Regions from separate parts of the Homo sapiens genome. Here region 1 is linked to region 2. The links come from fine-mapping of genetic effects on gene expression. Tissue or cell type: whole blood. Region 2 holds a variant in brackets; the other region holds the start of a gene. All regions are shown on one strand. Distances are between the middles of the regions.

Evidence for each region. PIP is the estimated chance that this variant, and not a neighbour inherited with it, causes the effect.
Region 1: FHIP2B starts here. The variant in region 2 is fine-mapped to the expression of FHIP2B in whole blood (TOPMed, PIP 0.98).

The regions. Positions count from the first base shown.
Region 1 is chr8:22,087,785-22,090,406 of GRCh38, forward strand. FHIP2B (FHF complex subunit HOOK interacting protein 2B) reads left to right here and starts at 1,366. Exons shown (of 17, transcript NM_022749.7): 1 at 1,366-1,514. The coding sequence starts at 1,470. RefSeq lists silencers at 1,256-1,475, 1,536-1,595, 1,786-1,885 and an enhancer at 2,106-2,245.
Region 2 is chr8:22,115,863-22,118,611 of GRCh38, forward strand. It overlaps HR (HR lysine demethylase and nuclear receptor corepressor), which reads right to left. Exons shown (of 19, transcript NM_005144.5): 17 at 1,013-1,177; 18 at 438-566. Among named protein-coding and RNA genes, the nearest start is that of NUDT18, 7.8 kb to the left of the region's middle. The variant G/A (reference allele first, on the strand shown) is at 1,631.

The DNA of each region.
Region 1 (2,622 bases), 28 kb before region 2:
GACCAATGAACCTACCAATTCCGGACACAATATGATGTCAGTGATAAGCAGAGACACTGGTTTTTGTTTCTTAGAGAGACACTATTTTGCTGTCACCCAGTCTGGACTGCAGGGGCACGATCATAGCTCATTGCAGCCTCGAACTCCTGGGTTCAAGTGATCCTCCTCCCACCTCAGTCTCCCGAGCAGCTTGGACTACAGGCACATACCACCACACCTGGTTATTTTGTATTTTTATTTTTTGTCAAGACAGGATCTTCATATGTTGCCCAGGCTGGTCAACAGCCTTGGCCTCCTAAAGTGCTAGGATTTCAGGCTTGAGCCACCACACTCAGCTGCAGACTTTTTTTTTTTTTTTTTTTTTTTTGAGACGGTCTCACTCTGTTGCCCGGGCTGGAGTGCACTGGCACGATCTTGGCTCACTGCAACCTCTGCCTCTCGGGTTCAAGTGATTCTCCCACCTTAGCCTCCACATACCACCACGCTTGGCTAATTTTTTTGTATTTTTAGTAGAGACGGGTTTTCACCATGTTGGCCAGGCTGGTCTCAAACTCCTGGCCTCAAGTGATCAAACCGCCTTGGCCTCCCAAAGTGCTGGGATTACAGGTGTGAGCCACCGCCCACAGCCCATAAACATTTTCTGATAGCCCTGTCAAAAAAGTAAAAAGCAACACGTGAAGTTAATTTTAACAATATACGTTATTTAACCCAACACACCTAATAGTCATTTCAATATGTAATCAATATAAGCCATGGTTGTTGCAGTTTCACACTTTCCTTTCTTACTGTATCTTCCAAATCGGGGTGTGCTTGGCACGGCACATCTTGGTTGGGACCAGCACATTTCAGGAGCTCATCAGCCCATGTGCCTGGGGCTGACTGAGACTTCAATTCAGGAGGAATTGTAATTTCTCTTCGAAAACACCTCCCTTAGCTCCCGCCTTAATCCCAGCTACTCAGGAGGCCCTGGCGGGAGGGTCGCTTGAGGCCAGGAGCTGGAGATCATCCTAGGCAGCACAGTGAGACCTCCCCTCCCAGTAAAAAAACAAAAAAAAAAAACAATTGGCCAGGCGTGGTGGCGCGCGCCTGTGGACCCAGCTACTCTGGAGGCCGGGGTTGGAGGATCGCATGAGTCCAGGAGTTGGAGGCTGCAATGAGCAGAGATCGCGCCACTACACTCCAGCCTGGGCGACCAAGCGAGACCCTGTCTCGGAAGAAAGGAAAGAAAAAAAAAAAAAAAAAAAACACCTCCCAGCCAACTCTCAGGGCCCACCGCTGGCGGTTCCCAGCCCGACTGGGCGCCCCCAGCCGGGGTTAGCCAGCGCCACGCAGCCGGGCCGGGAAGGGGCGGAGCGGCCGGGCCCCGCCCCCCTCGTCGCGCCGGGGCCGCCGGGGCCACGGGGCTGCCTCCTCCGCCTAGAGCGCTGCCGCCGCCGCTTTCGCCCGGGAGCCGGGGGCCGGGCGCCATCATGCTGAGCCGGCTCGGGGCGCTGCTGCAGGAAGCCGTGGGGGCGGTGAGGCCGGCAGGGCCGGGCCGGGCCGCCGGGAGTCGCGGGCCTAGGCCGGGCTGGGCGGGCGCGGAGCCGGGCGCGGCCCGCAGGAGGGCGGGCGGGCGCGGGCCCCCTCGGGCAGGGACCCCCGGGCCGCGGCGCCCCTTCCTCTGCCTCCCCGGCCGCGCCCCGCTTCCCCTCGCTCTTCCCAGTCCCGCTCCCAGACTCCTCCCGACCGCCCCACCTCCCCGGCCTGCTCCCGCGTCGCTTCCTGTCTGTGCGTCCTGGCCCCGGAGTCTCTCCCAATTCCCGAACTCGCCTCCGCCGGGACGCTCCCTGTCACCGCTTGGGGTGTTTCCTGCCCCCCGGGGCCCTAGGCCGCCTCCCCCCAGTCCCGGTGGGCCTGCCTCCTTCCTCCGCTCCACCCCACCGCCTCGCCTGGGCTTGAAAAAATCGCCGTCCCTTCCCCTCGGTCTGATCTCCCAGACAACTCCAGGACCTTGTTGGGGTGCAGGACGCCCTTCCCGTCACCCCGGGACGTGGGAAGTGCAGGCCCTGCCGGTCCAAGTCCCCACGAAGGGTAAAGACCCGGGGCAGGCTGGTGGGCCCCCAGCCGGGGAAATCGCCTTCTATTGGGTGCAGATGTTTCCAGCGTGGCTGTGACCCCTCACAAGCCAAATTGAGTTAGGGACATGCCGCCCGTGGTGGGGCCTGGGTGGCCCTGTGCGGGGAGGAGAGTCCATTGATGTTTCACGTGCCGTCAGTTTGTGTTTTTGCCATTTTTTGTTGGGGCTGCAGGCTGGCAGGCAGCCTACTACTAGGGTTCGTTCAGCAAGATGTAGCGCTGTGTAGGAAGGGTGGGGGTATTCCCGGTAGGGTGGGGGGGGTGCCCGCTGTTGAAAGTAACTCTGCCAAGAAGCTGTCTGTAAAGTCAGCAATACTTCTGCCTCCTAGTATAAATCTTCCCCCAATTGATGAGTTGAGTATCAGATTTTCTCAGGAGAGAAAGTCTTGGGTTTCACCCTCCTTCCTCCCCACCACCTCCTCCCCAACCCTCATGGGAGCTCCTGTTGAAAGAAGTTTGCCTTAGGCAAAGTTGGGAAGAAAGTCAGAAACTATGACTTCCTCCACC
Region 2 (2,749 bases):
GCTCACACCTGTAATCCCAGCACTTTGGGAGGCCAAGGTAGGTGGATCATTTGAGGTCAGGAGTTCAAGACCGGTCTGGCCAACATGGTGAAACCCCACGTCTACTAAAAATCCCAAAAAAATTTAACCAGGCATGGTGGTGGGCGCCTGTAGTCCCAGCTACTTGGGAGGCTGAGGCAGGAGAATCACTTGAACCCAGGAGGCGGAGGTTGCAGGGAGCTGAGATAGTGCCACTGCACTCCAGCCTAGGTGACAGAACAAGACTCCATCTCAAAAAACAAAATGAAACAAACTAAACAAAAGGAATACTCTGCCCCTGCACAGGGTGGCTGCCTGCTTGGCACAGGGTGGGATCTGCTATGTCCACTGCAGCTGTGGCACAGGGAGGTGGGAGGCTTGGGTAGCACACCCAGCCTGCTGGCCCACATCCCACTCACCTGGGCATAAAGCAGGTGGCAGTCAGGGGGAAGGCTGGGTCCCTGGTGGCAGAGCTGAGCAGAGAGGGCAGAGGTCTCAGGGGAGAGGAAGTGCTGAGTGACGCTGACTGTGCTCACCAGGCCCTGCACCTGTGTCGGGGGGACATGGACAGTGAGGCTCAAGATCACACATCCTCTCCCTGTCCCCCTGGTCCCTGAGGTTCGCTTCCTCTAATGACAACCACCCCCGACCCCTGGCTCTCAGAGAGCAGATTCCTGGATGCACCACTGGACACCTCAAAGCCTGTGGCCAAAACCGGGACTCAGAACTGCTGGAGAGACCCTAAAGTCTCCCTGCGAGCCCCCTGACATCAGCATGCCCAGGAGACCAGGAGTGGACTCTGGCGCCAGTCCCAGTTGGGCTCAGTGACTTCAAGGCCTCTTGGCTCCCCCGTTATCTCTTCCCCACAGCAGCGTGCGGCTCCCTGCCCTGCCCGGCTCTTGGGTATTGAGGGGATGTTGGATGCCTGCGGCCTTGATTGGGTCGCTTCTGCCATCCTGATCTCCCCGCAGAGCCCCTGCCCGCTGGGAAGCACCTGGTGGGGAGCCCCTGCAGGCACCAGCACGGCCTCTCCGGGGGCCTGGAGCAGGGTCCAGCAGCTCACGCCCCACTCCTCCCGCAGGCGCCGCCGCAGCCCTGCATCCAGGTAGCAGCTGCCTGGGGCGCCAGGCTCCAGGGCGCCTGCCCCGGCCGGGCACACCTCAAAGAAGAGAAGGGGGAATGAGCGAGATGGGGAGGGAAGGGCAGGGCTGCAGGAGGATGGGGCATGGACTTTCCAGAGGCCAGGGGTGGAGAAAAGAGCCGAAGGGTCAAGTCTTGAAGGGCAGGCAGGGAGGGCATGGCTGAGTTTGTTTGGGGCTGGGGCAGCTCAGGTTGGCAGAACACACATTTGGCTGGAAGGAGCTTAGAAGGAAGGGATTCAAGGCCCTACAGTTGGGCAGACTGAATCCCTGCTTTTCTGGGGCTGGAGGCCTTTAACAGCCTCTGTGACCTCGGCCCCTCTCCTCCCTCTCTCAATGGTACCCCTTTCTGCAAATCCGAGGGAGACGTCCTGCATAATCCCAGTTCATAAACTGTCTACCAGGACTTCTTCATCTGAAGTCTTTGGAATGGCCAGAATTGTGTGCTAAGTGGTGGATGAGGAGAGAGCTGT[G/A]TGTCCCTGGGGAGACAACTCAAAGTGTTCATCAGGGTCTCCCTAAGATTCCGGATGCAGAAAAGGGAAGGACCACTGCGAGGCTCTGAGTGCCAGCAGGTGAACAGGCTTTCCGGCCAGGCTGAGGCCTCTGCAGCAGCCACAGCTACGGGGACCTCACAAGCCTAACCAGAGCAGGGAGCTCTCTGGGCAGGCAGGGACTCGCAGAGGACAGAGGTGCCCAGGGAACATGTGCAAAGGGGACGCCAGCATCGTGCTCCAACCCACCACCAGCCCAATCCACCCCCTTTGGCAAGGACCTCAGCCATTGCCCCTGGGCTTAGGGCTGCAAGATGGGGCGTGGGGGAAGGGAAGGCTGGTGAAGCAAATTGGACCCTAGGGGAGTCCCAGCTGGGTGCCAAGATTCCTTTGCCCTTGGAGATTCAGCTCCATCCTGGAGCTGAGCAGTGTTTCCCAGGCCACCCAGGGAGACTGTGCCCCTCAGCCCTGCCCCGTGAGTCACTGGGTTGGGCCGTAGTGACTGCCCACGGCCAGCCACACCCAGCCCAGAAGAGGCCATCTGTGTGTGGAGGTGTGCTTGTCTGCTCCCCTCTGCGTGTCCCAGCATCTGTGTGTGTATCTACACATGTGTGTACCTGTGGGCAGGAGGGGTGCACACCATGCTGGCCTCTGCACGTCTCCGTGTGTGTGTGTGCCTTGGCGAGGGGTGACACTAGGTGGAAGTCTTTTCCCCAGGATAATGAGGGCTCAGCTGGACTTGGGAACCACGGGGCTGCCCTCGCCTTACCCCTGGACTCTCTCCTCCCCTGCGCCTCAAGCTTCTTGCCTCCAGCCCACCCCATCACCTTCCCCTTCCCTGGCTCCTCACCTGACCCATCTCTCCCTCCACTTCCCTCAGCCCCCTTCCTTGCTAGCCCCTCCGGGAGCATCTCCTCCAGGCAGTCTCCCCTAACAAGATGCAAATACCAAAAGGTGGGCAGCCGGACGGAGTCTCAGAAGGCAGAGGAGGCTGCCTGCCTCCAGGAAGAGCATAGAGTAGTGACCTGGGGCCATGACAGACAGAAGCTCAGATCCCAGCCCTGCCACTGAGCTTCGGTGTTCTCATCTGCCAATGGGAAA